Homo sapiens: one gene and its partners. The protein of the gene in region 7 purifies or fractionates together with the protein of the main gene of each other region. This does not show direct contact. Each region holds a gene or a part of one and is shown on either strand. Other genes may lie near its edges.

Region 1 (3,500 bases), on a different chromosome or scaffold from region 7:
GGCGACATCAGGCAAAGGGCGAAGGTCTGTAGGAGGGAGCGGGGAAGGACAATTGTCAGACATACAGCCTCTGCAAAGCTCTGCTTCATGGCCTCCCACTGGCATCTACACCCCACCTCAGGACAGGAGTATGCGCCCCTTCCTGACCGCTGAACTCACAGGCACACACACCCTCAAAGAGACACATGCCCTCCCACCATCGACCTACTGGCCTACTGTACACACGCACACGCACACACACATAATCTATCTTTTTTCTTTTTCTTTTTCTTTGTTTTGAGATGGAGTCTTGCTCTTGTCACCCAGGCTGGAGTGCAATGGCGCAATCTCGGCTTACTGCAACCTCCACCTCCCGGGTTCAAGCAATTCTTTTGCCTCAGCCTCCCGAGTAGCTGGGATTACAGGCGCCCACCACCATATCTGGTTAATTTTTGGATTTTTAGTAGAGATGGGGTTTCACCAGGTTGACCAGGCTGGTCTTGAACTCCTGACCTCAGGTGATCCACCCACCTTGACCTCCCAAAGTGTTGGGATTACAAGCATGAGCCACCGCACCCAGCCTTATCCTTTTTTTTTTCAAGACAGGGTCTCACTCCTGTCACCCAGGCTGGAGTGCAGTGGTGTGATCTTGGCTCACTGCAGCCTCAATTTCCCAGGCTCAGGCAATCCTCCCACCTCAGACTCCCAAATATCTGTGACTATAGGCATGCACTACCATGCCTGGCTAATTTTTTATATTTTTTTGTAGAGATGGGGTTTAAGCCATGTTGCCCAGGCTGGTCTTGAACTCCTGAGTTCAAGCAATCCGCCTGCCTCAGCCTCCCAGAGTGTTGGAATTACAGGCATGAGCCACCAAGCCCTAAATAGACACATTCCTTCCAGCGTCACCTACCCCCCAGTGCTCTTCTTACACACCCACCAAATCTGCCCTCAGACAGGTGCACAAACACACACTCATCTACACACTGCCTCATCTATCTCCAGACAGACTTAAATGTGCAAATCTATCCTCAGGTGGGGTTGAGGAAACCTCCATCCTCATTGAATTGATTGACACAATCAACTCTCTCTCTCTCTCCCTCTCACACACACAGATAGGCATGGATACACAAATCTACTACAGTGGGCACCTCTATCCTCAGATGAAATTGGGTACATTGCTTCCTTCAGAACCCCCTCAAGCTTCACATGCTCCCGGTGGTCCTGAACCCACCCTCCTCCTGCAAGACCTTGCTTTAAAGCCAGGGGGAAGGGACGAGCTTCTGTGTGGGGTATTCACATAGAGGCACACACTCACATCCACAAGCACGCTCATGCAGCCCCTCCCCACCTCACTCTGGCCCCTAAACCAGCCACCACCCCTGGCCTTGCCCCAGCTCCCTGCCCAGAACACCCACGGGAACAGGAGTTGGCTGCCTGACATCAGCAGTAGCCGGTGTAGTTGCTGGGCAGCGGGGGTCTCCATGGGAACGGCTGGGCCATGAGTACTTCCTGTCACAGCTGTCCCTGTCCTGCCCTTGCTCAGGGACAGCACCAGGCAGTGACCCCCCCCCACCCCCAAGGGACATGGCTAAGCAACACTGCCTGGGACAGGGGCTCCCCTGGCACCACCCACTATGGCTTGGCCTCCTGCCAGTGCCAGGTGAGGAGGGGACAGCTCTGTTGTTAACCCTCAAAGTGCCAAGGCTCTACAGCTCAGAGCAGAGTTGGGGGACGCAACATGGCTCAGAGCAGAGCATGGGCACTGGGTGGGTGAGGCTGGGTGCTGGGCAGAGTCCCACAGACCCCAGACCCCAGAGCAGTTCCCACATACCTGGCACTCTGCCTCAGGGCCTGCTCCGGCCAGCCGGCTCTGCGCGGGCACAAAAAGGATGAGACGGGCATGAGATCGCGCATGGAGGGGCGGGGTGGGGGTGGAGGGCACTCTGAGACCTAGGGCCTGGGAGGTTAGACAAGGGCCCGGGAGGTTAGACAAGGGCCCTGTGCCTGAGGCAGGGGAGTGAAACCTCCCATCTTTTGTGGAGCGAGGAGGCTTTGAGTTGAGGGAGTGGGTGGGACCCGAGGACAACTCCAACTTAGAGAGTCTTTCCATCTCAGGGGTTAGCTCGTTCACTCTCCCCCTCCACAGGCTGCCATGGACGACTTCACACATGCACACGCACTGCACACACACTGACGGCACACCTCACCATCCATTCCCATGCCGACCTCTGCGCTGGCTCACACCTCCTTTTTGCCATCACCCTCCAAATCCCTCCCAGACAGGCCTTTCTCTTCACCAGACCTCCTACCGCGCTCTTCCTCAAAGAGGTGCCAAACCTTCTCCCACTCCTCACCCCAGCATATCGTCACTCCATTCTCTGAGCCCCCTGTAGCATCCAGGGCCCAATCTCTATTCTCAAGGCCTTCCCAACCTTAGAGGACCACCACCCACCTTCTCAAGGTTTCCTCACCATTACGTGAGCTTTCTGGCCACCACACTCAGGGTCCCTGTTCCCAGGTGGCCGTGTAAACATGGTGCCGAATGCAACAGCTTTGGAGTCAGAGAAACCTGGGTTTGAATCCCTCCCAGGTCTGTCACGTTCTAGATGTATGACTTTGGGCAAGTGACTTAACCTCTCTAAGCCTCAGTTTCCTCCACTGTAAAGTGGGTGCCATAAAGTTCTCAAATCACAGAGTGGTTCTGGGGATTAAATGCGTGTATACCTGAAAGCCCTCAGCACGGTGATGATGACTGAGCACATAATAACTCAATACATAGATGATTTGTTTAAGGCCTTGTCACCATTCCCAGGCTTCCACTCATTCCTGGGGTGCCCTGACCATGGTGCTGCGCCTCACCATTCTCGGGGTGCTCCATCTCTCCTATGCTGCCATCAGGGGTGGTGCGCTCATAGTGATCCTCAGGCAGGGCCAGGGGACCGAGTCGAGGCCCTGAGGATGACTTGCTGGACGGCGTCTCAGACTCCTCCAGGCCACTGTCATAGTAACTGTGCTGGGATGGGTCCTGCAGCTCCTGGGCCTGGCTGGTGGCCGAGAAGGTGACGCGGCGGTGAGGTAACTGCAGGGAGACAGATTGTCACTACTGACCAGCCAGCTTGCCCACAGGGCCCACCACCATACCAGGCCCTAGTACAAGCCAAGCACCATCCTACTCAGGCTTCAACAGCAACCAAGAAGAGACCCAGGCCCCAGCACAGCACATTCCTCCCGAAAGCACAGGCCCCAGTGAAAGACAGCTCCTGAGTTCTAGGACCGCTCCTAGTACAGCCAAGTCCACATACTGGAAGTCCCAATACAGCGCAGGCCCCAGTGTTATTATAGCCCCTATGCTACCCCAATAACCCTCATCCAGTGCAACCGCTTGTTATAGCACAACCCTTCTAGTTCTAACCCAGCTTCCCAATATTGGCACAGCCTCCCTTTAATCCCAGAATGACCTGTAATACGGTGTAGAGCCCAATACCAGAGTAACATAATACCACCCGACTCCCCTAATT
Region 2 (3,500 bases), on a different chromosome or scaffold from region 7:
TGAGAGCTGGCCGGTGGGTTTCATTCTGCTGCTTGCCTCGGCCGCCTGGCATTCTGGCCCAGTCTTTCTGACGTGGGGACACTCTTGGCCTAAATCCTGTCTTTGCAACCAAAAAGCAGTGTGCCCAGCGGTCACCTCACTTGCTTCCTTCTCTCACCCAGGGTCCCAGAGCTGGGAGGGCAGGGGTGGGATGAATGAAGCGTGGCCTGCCCTGCGGAGAGGGATGAGGGTGGGGCGGGGAAGTTCCTCAGCCCCAGTGCGGCAGCTCGTTCCGGGGCGCTGCCTGTGTGGTCTACGCCAGCAGGTAAGTGAGAGGGTGACAGATTCCTGCTCCAGAAGGATCTGGGGCTGTGTAAGAACCGTCTCAGCAAGACAGTTCGGATCATGGTACACTTGAGAGGTGGTGACTGAGGGTCTTTGGGAAATGAAGATGGGGCAGATCTGAGATTACAGTGATTTTTTTTAAAAAAGAACTTCTAGGTGTCTGTGTCCTTGCAATATGTATCTGCAATGGTAATGCAGTGGGTATCTTCTTCCTGCTCTGTTTATCCGAGTGCCCGATGACTGTCCTCAGGTGCTAGGGTGGGGTGTCCTGTTACAGCCGGACAGGAATGAGCAGCCGCTGCTGGTGGGGAGCCCCCGATGGACTTGGGGTTTCCGGATCGTGTATACAGACAGGCCTAGAGACTGGTGTCCATGTTGAGTTCTTGTCTAAACCTGTGGGGTTTGAATCCTGCTGACAGTGACCCTGACTCCACCTCTTCCTGGTCTCCCAGAACCTCCCGGTGGCCAGCCTCCTCCGAGGTCAGTTTCTCGCTGTGTCCTGGTCCGTCCTGCTCGTGGCTCACAGGCTCCTCCCCTTCGTTCGCAGCTGCATCTTCCTCCCGTGAGGCTGGCCGAGCTCCACGCTGATCTGAAGATACAGGAGAGGGACGAACTCGCCTGGAAGAAACTAAAGCTTGACGGCTTGGACGAAGATGGGGAGAAGGAAGCGAGACTCATACGCAACCTCAATGGTACGTTTGTTTCTTTCCTAATGCAGGTCGAGTATCCCTCTTCCTAAATGCTTGAGAGCGGCAGTGTTTTGGATGTCGGATTTTGTTTTTGGATTTGGGAATATTTGCATTATGCTTAATCTGGATATCCAAAATGAGCCTTTCCCCGAGCATCCTGAGTGCCCAGAAAGCTTAGGATTTGTGTTGGGGGCTCACCCTCATGAGGGAGGTGGCCACTGGCTTCAGTGTTTGGGGGGGCTAACCCTCATGAGGGATGGTGGCTGCTCGCCTCAGTGCTGTGGGCTACGCCTCTGACTCCTTGGCTTTTGGCCAAGGGGCCCATTGGGCACAGCCTGCGGGGGGCTATCCTCCGAGCACAGATGCGCCCTTGGCCGTGGTCTCAGTTTGCTGTCACAGATGCCATTGGCACGCCAGAGGGAGGGCCAAGGCAGGGGCTCTGGGTGCAGGAAGGGGCCGGAGGACAGCAGGAGGCTCTGTCACCCAGAGGAGGAAGCAGGTCTGCCCTAGCATCTTGAAGTTTTGGGGACATACTCCAGATGTCATCAGAATGGACACTTGGTTGTCATGCGCTTAGTGAGTCCTCGTCCCTGTGGGTATTCAAGAAGAGGCAGGACAGTCGCCTGCTTGGTACCAGCATACGGAAGACAGGTGTGTCCTCAGAGCCGGGAGGGTTTTAAATGACAGAGTTGCGACTGTTCCTTTTGGACCCCTCTCCTCCGCCATCCTCCCTCACCACGGGCCCGTCGGCAGGGCACTGGCGGGCAGAGGACGCACACCAGGTGGGCCCGTGGGACTGGGGTTGGGGCTGCTCCGGAGAGTCGAGTGCTCAGCTGCCTGCTGTCAGCTATGTGTAGCAGCCCTAGGAGCTGCTGTGCCTCCACCCAACTGCTGCCCCTGGGCCTGACCCCAGGCACCCCTTCCCCAATCCCCTCCCCCGCTGCTCCCTGTGTGACCTGGGCCCCCGGCACAGTCCCCTGCCCCCCACCTCCGTTTCCTCCTCCTGTCTCACAGGACGGTGGTGTGAACCAAGTGGGATACTCCCCACTGTGGTGGGGGTGGGGGTGGCTGCCATCGCACTTGTTGCTGTCGTGAGGGTGGCCCCAGAGCCCTGGCCATGTCTGGAGTCTGCTGTAGCCCTGCTTTTCACACGCGCTGATGGCCTCAGGCATTGCAGCGCCCGGGTTGTCTCTGGTAAAGAGAGGAGGTGTCTACGGAGTTCCTTCGTTAGGCCTGATGCTCTAACACCTACTCCTCAAAACTCGTTGTCGTCCCATTTGACAGGCTCAGAGAGGGTGATTTGTCTGGAGTTGCAGAGCCGAGTAGTGCAGCAAAGATTTGGAGTCAGGGTTTTCTGACTCCTGAGCAGGTGGTCTGTTCCCAGCCACCCCTCTTCTCCCATTGGCAGGCATCAGCAGACATGTCATGTGGCTGCGCCCGGGTTAAAGACAGAGGGCCGGCTTCATTTTTGCTGGTTTATGCCACCATGTTCAAGAGTCTGGTTGAGACGTAAGCCAAGATACGGCGGCAGGGACTGCCTGGGGAAGAGAGACATGGCTGAAACAATTCTGGATGGTTGCGTCCCCACCAGCGTGTCTAGTGGGCCATTCCCAAGGGCCAAGAAAGAGCCTGTCCTGGAGGTGCCCCCAGGAAGAAGGGACTGGCTATGCAGCAGGGCAGCATTCGGGGCCTGGAGGAGACAGAGTAGCTTGCAGGGGGCACAGAAGTGGGCTAAGAACCAGCTCCCTCCTGCAGGCCAGGCAGTGTCCTTGCAGGGTGTCCAGGTCTGTGGCCCAAGTGGAGCTGTCTTGTTTTCTGCCATTGCCTAGTGACCTGGCAGAAAACTTAGTGGGACTCTAGGAGCCGGCGTCCCAGAAGCAGACCCTGCCCACACTCAGGAAAGAGGCTCGTCCTGGCCAGTTCCCCGCCATCTTCTGGGTGTGGTCCCTGGACCCCCGAGGTCCCCCGTGCCATTATCAAGTGTGATACCATACCTGGGGGACCAGCCATAGCCAGGTGTGCCTGCCCTTGGCACCCTCCATGCTGAGGTCCACCCTGAGACAGACGGGCCACGCTCCACTCTGCCCTGCCCTGCTCTGCTCTGGGGTTCGCTCCTGTCCTCACCCCCACCGCGCCCCCAGGGCCACTTCACTCCCCAGGCAGGGAGTGTGGGGCGGCGTCCGTCCTCCCCAGGCAGGGGGTGTGGGGCGGCGTCTGTCCTCCCCAGGCAGGGGGTGTGGGGCGGCGTCCGTCCTCCCCAGGCAGGGGGTGTGGGGCGGCGTCTGTCCTCCCCAGGCAGGGGGTGTGGGGCGGCGTCCGACTTCCCCAGGCAGGGAGTGTGGGGTGGCGTCTGTCCTCCCCGGGCAGGGCGTGTGGGATGACGTCCGTCCTCCCCAGGCAGGGAGTGTGGGGCCGTGTTCATCCTCCCCAGGAGCTCTAAGGGCTCGGTGCTCCTGAGGCCGCCTCCAGCTTCAGTGCTCTGTGACT
Region 3 (3,500 bases), on a different chromosome or scaffold from region 7:
TTTCCTTCACTATAGTTGGTTCGTTTTATTTTGAACTGTGTGGGTCCTTCCACCCTGGGTCCCACAGCCTTCCCACCCCACCCCTGAATAACTAAGTTTCTGGCTAGTTCCTATCTCAGAAGAACAAAGAATAGAGGTCTACTTTGAGTTGGCCATCCTGCACCTGAGGTTAGCATGCCATTCTTCACTCTGATAACTTTAGTTGCCAACTCTGCTCTTCAAAGTGCTGTGACTTTTGAAAGTCTCTGAGACTCCAAGCCATGGAAGATTGTTAATGAATTTTTATCATTTTAGAAAAGATCTGAAGACACTGTTATTACTTCCTGGACCTTGCTCAAATAAATTTTGTAATTCAAATTTGACATCCAATTTGCATTTGTTTATATAGAGTCTGTCATTATAAAACTGGCTGTAAGCTTATTAGTTTTTCTTAGGTCCACTTTTATCTTTCAGGACTATGATGAAAATGCAAATCAACCAACACTGAGTATTTACAATCAAGACGTTGACTCTGGTAGGAGCTGCAATTGATAGAAAGATGTATAAAATAGGAATTATTACCAACGAAGAGGAGAATATGGCCCAATACCCATAATGTCTATACCCGGAACAGAGAAAATTCTGCTCCTGCCCTCCCCACTTTGAGTCTCATACAAGTTGAACTGTTTTGCAATGAAAACAAAAGAGCAATTGAGAATTCATCTGTATCAAGAGAATATAAGCTCTCAGATGAGCTTTTGAAAATACTTCACTTTATGAATTAATTAATTAATTAAAAACTTCAAACAATTGCTGAGCTGTGTGGATTTTTTAAACTTGGTATGGTAAACATGGTTTCCAGCTGAGCCTCAAGCCCCCCCATTGAACCACTTTTTTGGCATGTTTGCTTGTCTGGAACCTCAGGACCCAGCTCTTTAAAACAAAACGCTCAGGACTGTTACCAAACCAGTCATCTCATGAGTTGTATGCCTTAGTATACAGCACAGTTGCTATCATAGCCTCCTGGATTTGAAACTTTGGGTAAAACTGTATTTCTATTTCCCCTTGGTTTACTGGTAATTCCTTTGCCCCTCTTCCATACCTCTCATTCTGATTGGTACCTGGTTTATATCATCATTCCTTTTTGACTAGAAGTCACCCAGTTCTTCATCTTGATATATTCTACACATCTTCCACAAACCAAACTTCCCGAAAGACTCTTTGACACTGGCCACAACCTTGCTGAAAAATGTCAGTGGCTTGACATTTCCCAGGTTAAATTATAAAAGCTTGGCAGGGCACAGTGGCTCACGCCTGTAATTCCAGCACTTTGGGAGTCCAATACCAGCCTGGCCAACATGATGAAACACCAACTCTACTAAAAATACAAAAATTAGCTGCCCATGGTGGCAGGCACCTGTAGTCCCAGCTACTCAGGAGGCTAAAGCAGGAGAATAGCTTGAACTCGGGAGGTGGAGGTTGCAGTGAACCAAGACAGCGCCACTGCACTCCAGCCTGGGTGACAGAGAGAGACTATCTCAGAAATAAAAATAAAATCTTTAGCTTGGTGTCTAAACCTTTACCAGAATAAACGTATCACCCTACCTTCCCCTTTTCCTCTTTTGGTGGTTTATGCAAACTCTGTTCCAACCAGATGGCCCTCGTCAATGTGTCACAAACACTCCTTGTGTTTTCTTAGTCCTGTGTCTTTGCTTTAACCTCCTCATCCCACAGCTTTGATTGCCCCTGTCATTCTTTCCAAATTCTACCCATCATTCAACATTCAGCTCATGTTCCATCTCTTCCCTGATGCTTCTGTGACTCCAAACTTCAAGGAATATTTCTCTTGACTCCTGAGAGCTCATTGCCTCACTCTGTCTTCAATGTGAGACTACTTTGAGTTTTTCATTGTAAATACCTACTCTGTCTACCTAACCATTTTGTTGATGTGATTAATCTCTTTGTATCACCTAGCACCTAGGTAACAGGGGTGCAATTATGGTTATGTGTGACTGAATCATCTATGAGTCTTCTTACCACCTTCTCTTACAGCCCATCACTCACCTCCTCTCCCCTTGCCACAGAGGTCAGATCCGTTCTCAGTTCATTGCCTCCAGAGTCCATTCCATCTTTCCCATTGTTTCCATTCTGTCTCAAACCCTCTTTCTCTCAGACTCTATTTGTGCCCTTTTGACAAAGTTGTGGCCCCAGGCCTCTTCTTACCTATGTCCATTCTGTACTCCACAGGCAGATTCATATTCTCAAAATACTTCAGAATGTCATTTTCCACTCCAAAGTTTTCAATACCATCCTTTTGCAATCATAATAAAATCCAGATTCCATAGCACATTCTAACACTAATAGAACGAATGAAGCTTCTCCTTTGCTACTTTCTCGCATGAGCCATCTGTCACAGTTAAATGAGTATATTCAGTTTCTGTGAGACACCTTATGGTTTTCTGCCTCTGTAACTTTGAGCATGTTACCCAGCCCCTATACGTACTAATAAATATTATTTCATATTATTTCATTTTGGAATTTCAGGCATTTTCAAAGCCCATTCCAAATACTTCTTTATGAAAGACTGGCCTGACAAAAGTCTGTATCAGCTCACAACATATTCATTTTTCGCATGCAAATTCATTATCTCCTCACCTGGACTGTGGCTCTGTGAAAATAGAAAATGCATATTCTCTCTCACAGAGCCTAACACTGTGCTCAGTCAAGACTTGCCAGTAAAAACTCCAACTTTAACACCTCAGTTAAAGACTAGGAAACTGATCTAAAAAAGGTAGAGAGAAAAAGCAATTCCCTCGAATTTTGAAGGAAATAAAAATATGGTAACGGGAAAGGTGAAAAATAAAGATCCTAAATACATAGAGGATTATTATGTAAAGTGAAAAACCAGAAAACTAGAGCCTGAAAGAAGTGCTAACTACAGACATTCTAAGAACACACTTAGCAATATATAACTCTTCTCTTTTAAGATACTTAAAAACATTTAAACTGAATGTTGTGAAGGCTATGCCATTTGGAGGGGGCACTTCTGTTTTCTTCCTCTTTCTGGGGAAATGAAAGCTTCTGTCACGACATCACAGAGCAATGAACTCTACTCAGAAAAGTAGTGAACAATTAATGAACAAGCAGAATGAACAAGCAGAGCATGAACAAGCCCTACTGCCTATTTGGAAATACCACCGGTCCTTAAACACTCTGAATAAAAAGGATGGCTGGAAGTTTCAGTTCTCTGATCATGAGTGCAAATTCTCCATCCTGTAAAAGCAACTGTACTTCCCACATCTCCCAGGGGGCAAAAAGTACAGTTAAATTACTTGCATCTGCACAACAAACCAAAGAAATAACATTCAGTTTGTGAGGGATGTGCAGAGCAGAGAGAGGAAGAGGCAACTTTGCTAACTCCTTCCAGGGCCACTCTTTAAAATTTCCCTTTGACCACCGAGCTTGTCTGAGCATGGATGCATCCAATCACTTCAAAGAGCGCTCTCTGTTCTGATGAATAT
Region 4 (3,500 bases), on a different chromosome or scaffold from region 7:
AATTTAGTCATTTAAACTCAAGTTCTGTCAATTTATAATTACTCTCACTCAAAAAGTGAGAATAAGCCAAAATGTTATTTCCATTTTAAAAATGATATATCATACTTCATTAACACGGTTTATACTTAGTAGCATAATCCACGACTGATCTGAACCAAAACAACAACAACAAAAAGCAGGGAAGTCTCTAGGACTAGATAATTCTTCTCTATACAGTATTCAAAATATACCTCCTGTTTCTCCATGCATATGGCATTTACAAGCAGTAAAAGGTATCTGGTAAAGCAAAGTGAAATTCTCATATTCTGTCACATACTATTAATTTAGAAATGATTTGTAAAAAATCTGCAGAGGAAGAAAGGAAGGAGAGAGAGAGAAAGAAGGCAGAAGTGGCAAGAGAGAAGAGGGAGAGGGATCAGGATGGAAAGGAGATAGGGAGACAAAGGGAAAGGGGAAGGCAAGGAAGAAAGAAAATGCAACCACAAACCTGCAAATATTCTGATGTAATTTCTCCTGAAGTTCAATGAAGCTGTCATATCGATCTTTAGTAAACTTTATATTACGGAGAACTGCTGCTACCGCAAAAGGACGTATCTTAGCTGTCTGAAATTCATAATATCATTAGAGATAGCAAACAGTAAGGCTTTTCTTTGTAATATCTTGTAATAGGAAGGTAGCTGCATTCTTGCCACTGGCATACATTTTCATTCAAACAAGTATATATTAATTTATTCAGTCAACAAGTAATAAAGTGGTAAACAAGAGAAAAAGTCACTACCTTCACAGAATTTATATTTCAGTAAGATTTCTGAAAATGTATTAAATAATTGAGAAAAAGTTTGCTCATAATTCATATATTTACCAAACAACCCCTCTGAAAAGTTTAAAATCTTTTAAAATTTCATTAATGTTCCACAATTTAAACAATTATATCTCAAATGTGTTTTAAACATGCATTGGATATTATTATCCAAAATTATTTATGGAAAGCAAAGGCTTTGTTCTTTTTCATTCCTAGGTTAAAAAAAAATGTTTTTTTAAGGGCTAGGGGCTAAGTATATAATCATTTTAGCAAATGATCAAAGAAAATCACATTTTTTAGAAGGGTAAGCTTTGGACCAGGCACAGAGGCTCACAGCTATAATCCCAGCACTTTAGGAGGCTGTAGGGGAAGGATCCTTTGAGCTCAGGAATTTGAGAGCAGCCTGGGCAACATAGTGAAACCCCATTTCTAAACAATACAAAAAATTAGCTGGGTGTGGTGGCGTGTGCCTGTACTCCCAAATACTCAAGAAGCTGCAGGGGAAGGATCCTTTGAGCTCAGGAATTTGAGACTAGCCTGGGCAACATGGTGAAAACCCATTTCTAAAAAATACAAAAAATTAGCCAGGTGTGGTGGCGTGTGTCTGTACTCCCAAATACTCAAGAAGCTGCAGGGGAAGTATCCTTTGAGCTCAGGAATGAGACCAGCCTGGGCAACATGGTGAAACCCCATTTCTAAAAAATACAAAAAACTAGCCGGGTGTGGTGGCGTGTGCCTGTACTCCCAAATACTCAGGAGGCTGAGGTGGGAGGATCACTTGAGCCTGGGAAGCAGAGGTTGCAGTGAGCCAAGACTGCACCACTGCATTCCAGTCTGGGCAAAAGAGCCAGACCCTGTCTCAAAACAAAAAAAAAAGAGTAAGCTTTGTTTCTCTTTCCTCCCCACTTTATACAGACATGTACAAAAGAAAATTTTTAAAAGAAAAATAAGAATTTGTCCTTATTACCTCTTCTGTGATAATCAATTTCTGGATTTTTCCATCAGGCATTACCCGTTTATACACTGGAGCCTTTATCCTAAAATAATATTTAAATGAATTTACTCATAATTAATCAAGACATTATATAAAATAATTACATTCTATGCTGTATATAGGAAGTATACAAAATGAATTAGGGCAATGGGTTGAGTTACAGCAAGTCAAATTTTGGCTGAACACTAAAAAAAAAAAACAAAAAAAAAAACTAACAAACTTTTTAACATTTAAAGTTGTCCAAAAATGACATAAGATGCCTCATAGTAATGTATTTCCTATCACTAGCATCCCAGCAGAGGCTACAAACCATTAACTGAGCAACCGTTTAAGGAGCATTTCAACATCAGCTGAGGGACTGGATTAGATAACCTTTAAGTTATGATAGTTATTCTAACCATGAGATTCTGAGCTTCTAGGAAGAAACAGAGCTTATGGAAAATACAGATTCCCTGGTTCCATCTGGCCCTACTGAATAAAATAAGTGAAGACAAAGATTTGGTAAATGGTGCATTTTGAAGGCATCTCTAGGGAACTCTTATCATAGGGAGAAGTTGGGAACTACTGTTTTAAGGCAGTGCTTCTCAAATTTCAATGTGCTTACAATCAATTGGGGAGTTTGTTAAACCACAGATTCTGATTAATAGGTGTTGGGTGGCGACTAAGACTGCATTTCTAGTAAGTTCTCATGTGATTCAGATGCTGCTGGTCCATGGACTCACTTTAAGTAGAAAACATTTTAAGTTGCTTTCCTAATTCTGTCTGATCATAAAAATCACAAGGTGACTGGTAAAAATACAGATTCTCACTGGGCAGGTTTGGGAAACGAACTCTCAGGAGTTATCCTTGATCCTAAAATAAAAGCATCTGATTGTCCCATAGGAAACCAACTGAGTCAACTCTAAAATTTTAACCATCCTTAACCTAATGCCTAATTATCACCATTTCACCAATACCCATCACTCACCTAAACCCTCACAATTTCAGAATCTAGCCCATCAGTTAGAACTCTTATTCTTTTGCAGCTGACCAGATAATGAAGAAGTAATCAAAAATAAAAACAATTTTTAATAGCTGTTCATTTTTTTCACTGTATATATTTGTTATCCTCTATCTTTTTTTTTTTTTTTGAAACAGAGTCTCCCTCTGCTGCCCAGGCTGGAGTGCAGTGGTGCAAATCTCGACTCACTGCAACCTCCACCTCCCAGGTTCAAACGATTCTGTGCCTCAGCCTCCTGAGTAGCTGGGATTACAGGTGCACGCCACTATGCCTGGCTAATTTTCATATTTTTAGTAGAGACGGGGTTTCACCATGTTGGCCAGGCTGGTCTTGAACTCCTGACCTCAAGTGATCCACCAGCCTCGGCCTCCCGAAGTGCTGGGATTATGGGCATGAGCCACCATGTCCAGCCCCTCTATCTTCATTAAATGAAAAGCTGGAAGGGGCCTTATAAATCTTCTTCATTATAGATTAGGAAATTGAAACTAGAGAGGCCAACTAACTTGCTCAAGATCACAGAGCCGTCATAAGATCTTTGGTTTTTCCAGTTAGGAGGCTTCACTCCTGAGCTTCCTTAGAACTCATAATGTAAGGGTATTTATTGCTAGCTCTCCATTTCCTCTCAACTTTTAACACATCCAGTGAACTACTCATTCCAATTAGATCACGGAGGGGAATCACACACACCTGCTAAATAATTTTTT
Region 5 (3,500 bases), on a different chromosome or scaffold from region 7:
GCTTGCTGGATGATGGCTGCACTGGGCCAGCTCATCCCCATCACCCAGGTGACACTGAGCCAATGGCCAGTCATGTGAGTGTGGCCATCCCAGCCTATTCAGGCCCAGCCTAGATGACCCAAACCAGAACTGCTTAGTTAGCTCACAGAATCATGAAGAGCAATAAACTGTCATTTTGAGCCAATAAATCTTAGGGCTGCTTGTTATGTAGCAAAAGCTAACTGATACAAATGCAAAGGTTTCCTCTTAGAGAAAACAGCCCTGTCCTGTTCAGAAGTTGTGCCGGCAACTGAGTATTACGTGCAACATGTATCTAAGAGCTCCCTCAGAAGCCTTGGAAACTCCACTCCAATTTACAGCCTAAATCTGAATCTGTATGGTAGGGTGAAAAGAGTTATTTTATCAGCCCACAACAGAATCTTGGAGAGGGAGCTGCATCTTGCAAGAGGCCTGCAGGCAATCTACAGAAACTTCACATGGGTGAGGAAAATCAAGGGATGTGGTCATTTCCTCCAAGTGGGTTGACCTCAGGAGAGGAAACAGCCCTGGGGGAGGCAGATGACCCAAGGGATCTGCTGGGCAGGGGCTCAGGCCAAGAAGCACTCACGAGAAGGAAGGCCCAAGAATTGTCCCCACAGATTTCTTGGGGGAAAACACTGGGCTTCCTGAGGTCATGGGAAAGAGGCAGCACCAATTTATCTGTGTCTTGAGGCCTGAGTGACCTCAGCTGCACCTGGATACCATCTGTTACAGAAAAGATCCCGTGTCCAAACCAGAGAGCAACAGCCCCAGCAGGGCTGTCAAACACTCAGCAGAGTTTTAAAAAGAGATTTTCAGAGATTTTTTTCACATTAACAAACTCACAAATAGCTACATGGCCTCAGCTGTGGCTCAGACACGCACGTTCACCCACATATAAAAGCTAACATTTACCGCATTTTTCCTATGTCAGTTACCATACTCTCGATTCACACGTATTAATTCATGTAATCCTCATAGAGGATCCTGAGGGGAGGTACTGCTGTCAACCACAGGACAGTTAGAGGGGGCTGCTTCAACACTCTCCCGGGGATCCCACCTCACTTGGGGGAAAAGCTAAAGTCCCCGCCCTGCCCTCACCTCCTCCCATTCTCCCCCTCACTTACTCAGCTCCAGGCACATGGCCTCCACAATGTTTCTGGAACACGCCAAATAGACTCCTGCCTCCTGATCTTTGCACTTGCCATTGCATTTTCCAGGAACACCCTTCCCCCTGAAAGCTGCACAGCTCACTCCTCAGCTTCTTTCCCTTCCTCAGAAGTCACCTTCTCAGGAAGGCCTCTTCTGACCACCTAATCTAAAATTGCAACCGCCTCCCCACCTGCACACACGGCGCTTACCACCATCTGACAGGGTCTCTATTTTATTGATTCCTTTTCTTGTCTACCTGCCCCATGAGGACAGGCACTGTGTCTTTTTGGCTCACTGCCGTGTGCTCAGTGCCTGGTACACAGTAGGTATTCAGTAAATATTTGTTGATTGAAGGAGGGGAAACTGAGGCAGGCAACCACAGTCCGCTACTTGCCCAAGGGCCACAGCCAGCAGGTGGCGGAAGCGGGATTCCAAGCCAGGCCAAGGGACCGAGTCTGGAGGCTTTCCTAGTCACTACCTCTACTTCCCCATGTGCAAGTCCCTTTGCACATCAGAAACACACAACCCACTTGCACATGTGAGCACAGGGACACCCTTACGGCCCAACTGCACACTCACGTCTGCCCCAGTCCCCAGGATCCCTGCCAACGAGCCCCAATCCTCACCGCACCCAAATCCCGGGCCCCACATACAGGAACTTGCCGTCGGTCTGCGCCCCAGAGTAAAGTTTGCGCTCGGCCTCCTCACGCGTCAGGCTGCTGTGGTACCAGGGCATCCGCTCGTGGGCCGTCGTAGCAATGAGCTTCTCCACCTGCGGGGCCTGGCTGATGATGGCCTGCTCCAGGGCCTCGCCCTAGAAAAGGAGAGGCGAGGAGGTCTGTAGGTGTGGCCAAGTGCTCGCCACAGGAACCCCCTTCCGGGAGCCCTGTCCCAGAGGACTCCCCACCCCACCCAGGCGTCCCTAGCGCGTGTTAGGCAGGTTTTCGAGGACTACCTCCGCGCCATCTCCGTGGTCCCCTCCCCAATCCAGCTAGGGAGGAACCACCCCCACCTTCCAGCGCGGCCCCAAGCGCATCTCCAGCTTGAAGACCTAATTCAGGTAGTTGTGCATGGTGGTGTCACTCAGGCTGTGGACGACTACTGCCCATCTTCCCCAACAGCCACCCTACCCTAAGGGCTCACCCTAGCCCCGCGCACCCTCCTCTCAGCCCCGCCCCCATTCCAAGCCTCGCCTTCGCCCGGCCCAGTGCGTCCCTCTACCTTCCCATCTGGCATAGTAGAGCACCATAGCATCGCTCAGCCTGCGGAAGGCGACCGCCACCACGGAGCCCCTGCCTCTGAGGCCTCCTTTCAGGTTCTTCCCCAACCAGTGCCCCACCTCTCCAGCTTCCAAAGGGGACTGAATGGGGAAGACGACCTTTTCCTCCCTCCTATCCCCCCAAAACCCTCGACTGCCCCTCTTCGGCCACGCCCCTCCAGACCCCGCGCCCCAGGCTGCGCTCTCACCTCCAGCTTCCACGTCTGGCGCACGTAGTCACGCACCATGGCGTCTCGCAGGCAGTCGAAGACCCCCGGCTGCGGCTCGAGGCCCGACGGCCGGTTGCACGGCTTGCGCAGGTTGCAGGGCAGCCCGTCGGGGTCGCGCGAGTAGAACTCGCAGAGCTCTGCCGGTCCACAGTGCGCTTTGCCGCCGGCAATGGCGTAGGTGCCGTTGAGCTGGCGCTCGATGGGAAAGTGGTGGAAGCGCACATCGTGCACGAGCGACAGCACATAGCCGCCCAGCGAGCGCAGGCACTGGCGCAGCAGGAAGAGCCCGTCCGCCATGCCCGCCAGCTTCAGGTGCTCCTCGGCCTCGGCACGCGAGATGCTGCCGTAGAAGAAGGGCAGGTGCGCCGCGGGGTCTGGCATCGCCCCTGGGCCTCCCGAAACCTGCGGGTTCACAGAGGGTCGGAGGCACGTCAGGGCCTTCCTGAACCTGGTGCGTTGGGCCCAAAGACGGCGCGAGAGACGCCAAGTGGAGGGCATCAGTGCCGCAGACTGAGCTCGCCAAGGGGGCAGAGCCTGCTCTGTGCCAGAGTCAACCTGGAGAGAAGCCGCAGCCTGCTGGGCACAGATCGAGAAGTCCCAAACCCCCATCTGACTTTCCAGAGACATTATGTGGACGCCCAAGCACGCCAACTGGTCCCCAAGCACCCACACCTGTACCCATCTCTTCATGTCCCAACCACGTGCTGAATTATTGTGTTTCAGGCCCGGTGCTGGGGATATGCACGCTTGAGGCAGGCGCGGTCCCACCCCGTCCTCCCGAAGGCAACACTCTAAGGAGGGAGAGCCGTGAGATAAACTGAGAAAGAAACAAAAATAATAAT
Region 6 (3,500 bases), on a different chromosome or scaffold from region 7:
AGCCAAGATCTCAATGAGGCACTTCTCATCAGTGCCAATGCCCTGGGGGTAGAAAAAGAGCGCATGAATTAAGGGCAGGGATGGGAGGTCACTGGACACAGGTTGGGATCAGGGAGTGGCCAGAGCTATGACACCCCAGGACTCAGGAGGTTCCTACCCAGCTCTTAGGCACTGATTGGGAACTCCTGCCTTGAGACTCATAAGACATGGTCATATGATTTGGATGTGTTTCCCCACCAAATCTCATGTCGAATCGTAGACCTGAATGTTGGAAGTGGGGCCTGGTGGGAGGTGGTTGGATCATGGGGGCGGTTTCTCATGAATAGTTAGCACCATCTCCTTGCTACTGTTCTCACGATCGTAAGTTCTTGTGAGATCTGGTTGTTTAAAAGTATGTAGCACTTCCCCACCTCCCGCCTTGCTCCTGCTCCCACCATGTGAGATGCCTGCTCCCTCTTTGCCTTCTGCCAAGACTGGAAGCTTCTTGAGGCCTCCCCGGAAGCAGAAGCCACAATGCTTCCTGTTCAGCCTGCAGAACCATGAGCCAATTCAACCTCTTTTCTTTATAAATTACCCAATCTCAGGTGTTTCTTTATAGCGATGTGAGAATGGACTAAAACACAAAGGTTCTAGTTCTGCCTCCTCCAGCTTTGTGAATTCTCTTCAGAAACTATCTTTTTGGGCCTCAGTTTTCTCATCTGTAAAATGTAGATGATATTAGTTGCTCTGCCAAACTCACAGGGAGATTGAGAAGATAATAATCTCACATTGCTAAGTGCATCAGTTTATAAAATGAATTCATGCTTAATAGCTCATAGAAGACAAAGATCATAGCACTTTATAGACTGTAAAGTGCTAGATACACTTAAAGGGCTTTGCCTCTCTTTTTCCTAGGGGGCAATTCTCTACCTCTACCTCAACCGGGCTGAACTACTCTTCATACCCTAAACACAGATCCACAACTTCTCCTGCCATTTTTACACCCTGCAATGACCTTGACACTGCTATCCACCAAATCCTCTCTGGGCTTTGGGGCTTAACTTGATCCTATTATCCTTTAAGATGCCCTCTCAAACAACCCTTGGCCCAGGGTCATGTTGATTACCTTTAGTGTGCCCTTGGCCTCAGGAGTGTTGGACACAATTTGTCTCCATGTCCCTATAACCTGTATCCTTGGACTACAAGCTCCTGGTAAGGGGGTCTGCATCATGTTGACATCTGTCTGCATCTCTCTGTGTGCGGATCGGGATGCTCCTCTGGGATAAATTTAGATGTGTCTTTGAAGCAGGACACATGTGCTGGGTGGGTATGGGGCTCACCAGTTGCTTTTGGAAGAGCCCAGAATCTTCCCATTAACCACATCCCCACCCCAACACCACATACACCCCCACTTCTTACCGAGATGGCATCTTTAATTTCTTTGGCATCACAATAGGCAGGTGGCCTCATCAGGCCCACAATCAACCGTTCAAACTTGCCCGTCAATTCATACTTTAAATCAGCAATGAGGTCCTGGCAGGTGGGGAAGAAGAGGAGATAGAAGAGGAAAGAGGAAGAGTAGTTACAACGGTAAGAATTACACTTAATGAGCACTTACTCTGGCAGGTGCTGGGCTAAGTAATCTCATTAAATCATCACCCTTGGAGGTATGTACTGTTACCAACCCTAAGAGACAGGCTCAGAAACAACAGAGGTCTTACTCCATGTCATGCTGCTAGCAAACGGCTATGCAGGGTCAGGTCCACAGCCCTGTGCCACTTCCCCACCACTGTCTGTTTCCTCGTTTACTGTGTATCTCTCTCACTATCTGGCAGTCCACAGAGTTGACACCTCACCCATCTTATTCACTAGTGCAGCCCTAACACCTAGCACGAGCCCAGCATACAGCAGGTGCTGTGGGTGTATTAAAGGCTGAAAGACGCCCAGCTGATGAGAAGAAAAAGAGCAGGGTAAGGTGTCAGCCCACAGGCTAACCTGGAGTGCCATATCCAGGAAATAACCTGAACGAGCACACAGGTGAATGAAATCATTCTTCCACCCGCACCCCATGGGCCCTCCGGTTGCTGTGGTTACCTTGCCGTAGAGGGACTTGTAGCTCTGGCAGACCTCCTGCCTCTGCCTGTTGCTCCGTGAGGTGATTATGTCCAGTATGGCCTCCTTGTCACTGCCTGGAATAGGGGAGAGCAATCATCATCCTACCCACCCTGCCTCCAGGAAGCCCACCAGGGCCACTTCCTTCCCTGGACACAGGCCTAGTAGCTCCCTGCAGGCCTCAGCATGAGCCTTCCACTCATCAGGTGCTGGTGTCAGGGCAGAGGGTCATGGGGATTTATTAAGTCACGACTGAAAGTGGACACAGCACACACAATATCTGTGCTCAGAAGGCCCCTGATCCAGCTCCTCACTGCACAAATCAGGAAATTAAGGCCCAGAGAGGGGCAAGAACTTGTCCAAGGTCTCACAATGAACCTGGCTTAGAAAACCCAGGTATCCTAACACCCAGTACAGGGTTCTTTCCACCACAAGACAAAGAAGAACATAAGCACCACCTTCGGATTGTGGCTGCCTCTGGGCAAAGGCAGCGGGCGGCATTATCAGGAGGGGGATCTACCAAGGAAACTTCAACTATGCTAATGAAGCACTAGTTCTTAAATTTGGTGGTAAATCTATGGGTGAAATTTCTATTATTCTTTATACTTTTTTTCTGAAACATTTTATTATAACATCATGAAAATTAATAAAAAGAGGAGACCAAAAAAATGAATAAGTGCACTTCACCATTTCACAGACCCTACCACCACCACCAGAAGGGCTCTGGGCTGTGTCTACTTTTGGGGGATACCCCTCAAGCTCCCATGAAGCCTGGCACCCACCAAAGCCCTTCATGGCAGTGTACAGAGCCTCGGCATCCTGGTTGGGGTCAAAGCCTGGGAAGTCATGGATGGAGCCCCGGTACTTGGCACCCTGTGGAGAAAAAAGTAGAGGGTGAGCTGCCAACCCCGGACTGAGACCAAGCTCCCAGCCCCAACCTCAGGTCAGATGCCTACCCTGGTCCAGGCTGAGCTGCTTTCCCTGCAAAATCCAGTGCTGGCCACATACACCCTGGGGAGCGGTGTGGATGACTTTCCCATACCACCTGCTGCAACCCGCCCAAAGGACAGTGCCATTTCCCCAAGGGAGGGGGGCTTGGCCAAGGCCTGCAGCCCTGCACCACCTTCCAAAGCATCCAGGAGAGGGTAAAAAAGCCTGGCTGAGTATAGGAGATGAAAATGATCCCTGCAAGAATAGCAAGAGTCAAATATATATATATATATATATATATATATTTTAAGAGATGGGGTCTCACTCTATTGCCCTGGCTAGTTTTGAATGCCTGGCCTCAAGCAGTCCTCCCACATTGGCCTCCCAAAGTGCTGGGATTACAGGCATGAACCAGTGCACCCAGCCAGCCCCTCATATTTTTATGGCATTTTATGTTTACACTTTCACCTCTGTGAATG
Region 7 (3,500 bases):
TCCCACATCTTTCCCTCCCCTCCTCCCTTGAGGCTCTGTGCATTCTGGGGAACTCTGTCCATTTCCCTTTGTCCATGTGTCCCTCCCACCCTGCAGCCGGCTCCCTCACATCCACCCTGGGCTGCAGGCGTGCTCGGCAGGCTCCCCACAGATCAAAGCTTGTCCAGGGTCTGCATTGCTGCCAAAGGCCAGGAGGACTGTGTACAGACCGGAAGGAGCTAGAGCTTAGTGGCAGCCTGAGAGGGGAAGCTGAAAAAGGAGAAGAGGCAAGGGGCATTCCAGGGGAGCCCGGGAGAGCCAGCACGGCCGCCTGGTATATGAGGCAAAGAGGAAGACAGACACAGACACAGGGAGCTGCAGGCTGGGGGCATAAGCTGGGGGCTGGGAAGCATAGATACAGAAATGCACAGATGTGAGCTGAGAAGCAAGGAGGGAGAGAGAGAGACAGAAAGAGAGAGAGAGACGTGCCAGGGCTTGAGGGACCAGAGAGCCCTCCCAGCCTCTCTCGGAGTGCTGGTATACAGGATGCTACCGTACTAGGGTAAGACACCTCTGGGGACGCTGAGTATGGGAATCAAAGGCCAGATCTCTGGGGTGGCAGCGGAAGCCCAAAGCACCAAAGCAAGCATGCTGGAAACCCACAGCCTCCTCCACTTAGCAGAGCCTTGGGGTGAGATGAGGCAGAACAGGGAGCTGGAGGCAGGGAGGTGGCTGTCTGCACATACCTCAGGACCATGGAGCTGGGGGAGTCAAAACAGCCACCATATGGGGAAGGGTCAAGAATGCCTCTAGTCTTCCCCAGGCATCTTATCAGGGTAAGCTGAATTTGGACCCCAGAGAAGGGATATCGTTTATGGAGACTTCCCCTCTTTCATCCCCTGCTCACCAAGGACCCAGTCAGTCTGGGATGGGGGACAGTGGGAACCACTCTTTGGTATGAGGCTACTCCTATTCTACTCTTCTCACTGCAGCCTTCCCCTAGATGCCTCCCATCTGCATGCTAACCTGTAAACACTTCACCATCACTGGTGGCTAGTCTCCCTTCCTCCTTTTTCAGAAACCTCCTTCCTGACCTCTTTTCTTCCTACTTCCCCGGTTTAAACAAAATTGTATCTATCTATCATCTATCTATCTATCTATCTATCTATCTATCTATCTATCTATCTATCTATCTATCTTTTTTTTTTTTGAGACAAAATCTCACTCTGTCGCCCAGGCTGTAGTGCAGTGGCACTACAAGTAATCCCAAGTAGCTGAGATTACAGGCGCCCGCCACCATCCCCAGCTAATTTTTTTGTATTTTTAGTAGACACGGGGGTTTCATGATGTTGGCCAGGCTGGTCTCAAACTCCTGGCCTCAAGTGATCTGCCTGCCTCGGCCTCCCAAGGTGCTGGATTATAGGTATGAGCCACCACACACGACACCCGGCTTCTATCTATCTATATCTATCTATCTATCTATCTATCTATCTATCTATCACCTATCTATCTAATCTATCTATATCTGTCTATCTATCTTTATGTATCTATCTTATCTATTGATCTATCTATCTTTTTTTTTTTTTGAGACAGAGTCACTCTGTCACCCAGGCTGGAGTGCAGTGGCACGATCTCGGCTCACTGCAACCTCCGCCTCCCGGGTTCAAGCGATTCTCCTACCTCAGCCTCCTCAGTAGCTGGGACTACCCACCACCACTCCTGGCTAATTTTTGTATTTTCAGTAGAGATAGGGTTTCACTATGTTGGCCAGGCTGGTCTCCAACTCCTGACCTAAAGTGATCCACCCACCTTGGTTTCCCAAAGTGCTGGGATTACAGGCGTGAGCCACCGTGCCTGGACATATATCTATCTTTTTTTTTTTTGAGATGGAGTCTCGCTCTGTTGCCCAGGCTGGAGTGCAGTGGCGTGATTTCGGCTCACTGCAACCTCCGCCTCCCGGGTTCAAGTGATTCTCCTGCCTCAGCCTCCCAAGTAGCTGAGATTACAGACGTGCGTCACCATGCCCAGCTAATTTTTGTATTTTTAGTAGAGATGGGATTTCACTATGTTGGCCAGGCTGGTCTCGTACTCCCGACCTCAGGTGATCCACTTGCCTTGGCCTCCCAAAGTGCTGGAATTACAGGTGTGAGCCACTGCATCCGGCCTTATATATCTATCTTGTCTGTCTGACTGTCTAATCTAATTCATCTATTTTATCTGTTTATCTTATCTATCATCTATTTATCTAATCTATCTGTCTGTATGTCTGTTTTTTTTTTGTTTTTTTTTTTTTTTTGAGATAGAGTCTTGCTCTGTCGCCGAGGCTGGAGTGCGGTGGCGCGATCTCAGCTCACTGCTGAACCTCCGCCTCCTGGGTTCTAAGCGATTCTCCTGCCTCAATCTTTGGAGTAGCTGGGATTACAGGCCCGTACCACTGTGCCCGGCTAATTTTGTATTTTTAGTAGAGAAGGGTTTCACCATGTTGGTCAGGCTTGTATTGAACTCCTGACCTCAGGTGATCTACCCGCCTAAGCCTCCCAAAGTGCTGGGAGTACAGGTGTGAGCCACTGTGTCTGTCCCTAAATGTCTGTCTCTATCTATCTATCTATCTATCTATCTATCTATCTATCTAATCTATCTTTCTGTCTAACCTAATCTATTTTATCTATCTTATTCATCATCTATCTAATCTGTCTGTATGTTTATCTAATCTATTTACCTAATCTATCAATCTATCATCTAATCTATCTAATCTGTCTATCTAATCTATTTTATCTATCTATCTATCTGTCCATCCATCTATCTACCTACCTGTCTATCTCAAGCACCTACCACGTATTAAGCCCTGGCTACCTCCTCTTCCAGGCAGATGGAGTAACTGGAGGCAGCTAACAAAGATGGAGTCACTTTTCTTATCTTCTCCTAAACCACCGTAAGAGGACCAAGCCCCCACACCTTCTGAGTGCCCCATTCCTCTCCACAGATTGTGTCTTAGTGCCCAGCAGGAAACACAGTCCACCTCCCATGGTTCAAGAGATTGTAGAAAGGGGGTTATTCACATAGGTTAAGGGAATCAATCAATTTGAAGCACAGACACTATTAACAGCAGGAAGAGTCCTGAAGAAGTGAAAATGGTGTTTCTGGAACCCAGAGAGTGCTTGCACTCTGGATAAGGGGCCACCCCACAGAAGCTGTGGAGGGGCAGGGCTGCAGGTGAGGATGAACACACAGCTATTGACAGAAAATATGCCCAGGGCAGGGATAGAGTAGGAAAAATATCCCAGCTTCTTTCCCCCACCCTTCCATCTCATCTCTGAAAGGCACTTCCCACTGGCCAGCCCCGACTGGTGCTGGAGGGCAAGAGAGCCTATGAGCCATGTGTGGCTGTCAGCCCCTTGGTGGAGAGCCACAGACAGGATGGAGAGTGGCTGGCAGGGCCCCGTGGGGATGAACAGCTTGGATTGGGGCGACTGGGCTTCATCCAGGCTGGGCTGGATGTGTGCATACATTTCAGTGACCCG

Evidence for each region.
Region 1: the proteins of CD4 (region 7) and PCDH1 purify together in Homo sapiens (affinity purification with mass spectrometry; one large-scale study listed by BioGRID and IntAct). This does not show direct contact.
Region 2: the proteins of CD4 (region 7) and LRPAP1 purify together in Homo sapiens (affinity purification with mass spectrometry; one large-scale study listed by BioGRID and IntAct). This does not show direct contact.
Region 3: the proteins of CD4 (region 7) and MME purify together in Homo sapiens (affinity purification with mass spectrometry, with the first as the bait; one large-scale study listed by BioGRID). This does not show direct contact.
Region 4: the proteins of CD4 (region 7) and FARSB purify together in Homo sapiens (affinity purification with mass spectrometry, with the first as the bait; one large-scale study listed by BioGRID). This does not show direct contact.
Region 5: the proteins of CD4 (region 7) and ZAP70 purify together in Homo sapiens (affinity purification with western blotting, with the first as the bait; one study listed by BioGRID). This does not show direct contact.
Region 6: the proteins of CD4 (region 7) and ANXA6 purify together in Homo sapiens (affinity purification with mass spectrometry, with the first as the bait; one large-scale study listed by BioGRID). This does not show direct contact.

The regions. Positions count from the first base shown.
Region 1 is NC_000005.10:141,854,411-141,857,910, forward strand, and holds part of PCDH1 (protocadherin-1 isoform 2 precursor), read right to left. Parts: intron 3,062-3,500; coding exon 2,842-3,061; intron 1,853-2,841; coding exon of another isoform or gene 1,827-1,852; exon of another isoform or gene 1,814-1,826; intron 27-1,813; coding exon 1-26. UniProt on the Homo sapiens protein: May be involved in cell-cell interaction processes and in cell adhesion.
Region 2 is NC_000004.12:3,522,423-3,525,922, reverse strand, and holds part of LRPAP1 (alpha-2-macroglobulin receptor-associated protein precursor), read left to right. Parts: intron 1-871; coding exon 872-1,016; intron 1,017-3,500. UniProt on the Homo sapiens protein: Molecular chaperone for LDL receptor-related proteins that may regulate their ligand binding activity along the secretory pathway.
Region 3 is NC_000003.12:155,111,319-155,114,818, reverse strand, and holds part of MME (neprilysin), read right to left. Parts: intron 1-3,500. UniProt on the Homo sapiens protein: Thermolysin-like specificity, but is almost confined on acting on polypeptides of up to 30 amino acids. Biologically important in the destruction of opioid peptides such as Met- and Leu-enkephalins by cleavage of a Gly-Phe bond.
Region 4 is NC_000002.12:222,639,093-222,642,592, forward strand, and holds part of FARSB (phenylalanine--tRNA ligase beta subunit), read right to left. Parts: intron 1,840-3,500; coding exon 1,770-1,839; intron 604-1,769; coding exon 488-603; intron 1-487.
Region 5 is NC_000002.12:97,723,576-97,727,075, reverse strand, and holds part of ZAP70 (tyrosine-protein kinase ZAP-70), read right to left. Parts: intron 3,061-3,500; 5' UTR 3,040-3,060; coding exon 2,638-3,039; intron 1,985-2,637; coding exon 1,824-1,984; intron 1-1,823. UniProt on the Homo sapiens protein: Tyrosine kinase that plays an essential role in regulation of the adaptive immune response. Regulates motility, adhesion and cytokine expression of mature T-cells, as well as thymocyte development.
Region 6 is NC_000005.10:151,137,280-151,140,779, forward strand, and holds part of ANXA6 (annexin A6), read right to left. Parts: intron 2,965-3,500; coding exon 2,874-2,964; intron 2,169-2,873; coding exon 2,074-2,168; intron 1,513-2,073; coding exon 1,399-1,512; intron 43-1,398; coding exon 1-42. UniProt on the Homo sapiens protein: May associate with CD21. May regulate the release of Ca(2+) from intracellular stores.
Region 7 is NC_000012.12:6,792,528-6,796,027, forward strand, and holds part of CD4 (T-cell surface glycoprotein CD4 isoform 1 precursor), read left to right. Parts: intron 1-3,500. UniProt on the Homo sapiens protein: Integral membrane glycoprotein that plays an essential role in the immune response and serves multiple functions in responses against both external and internal offenses.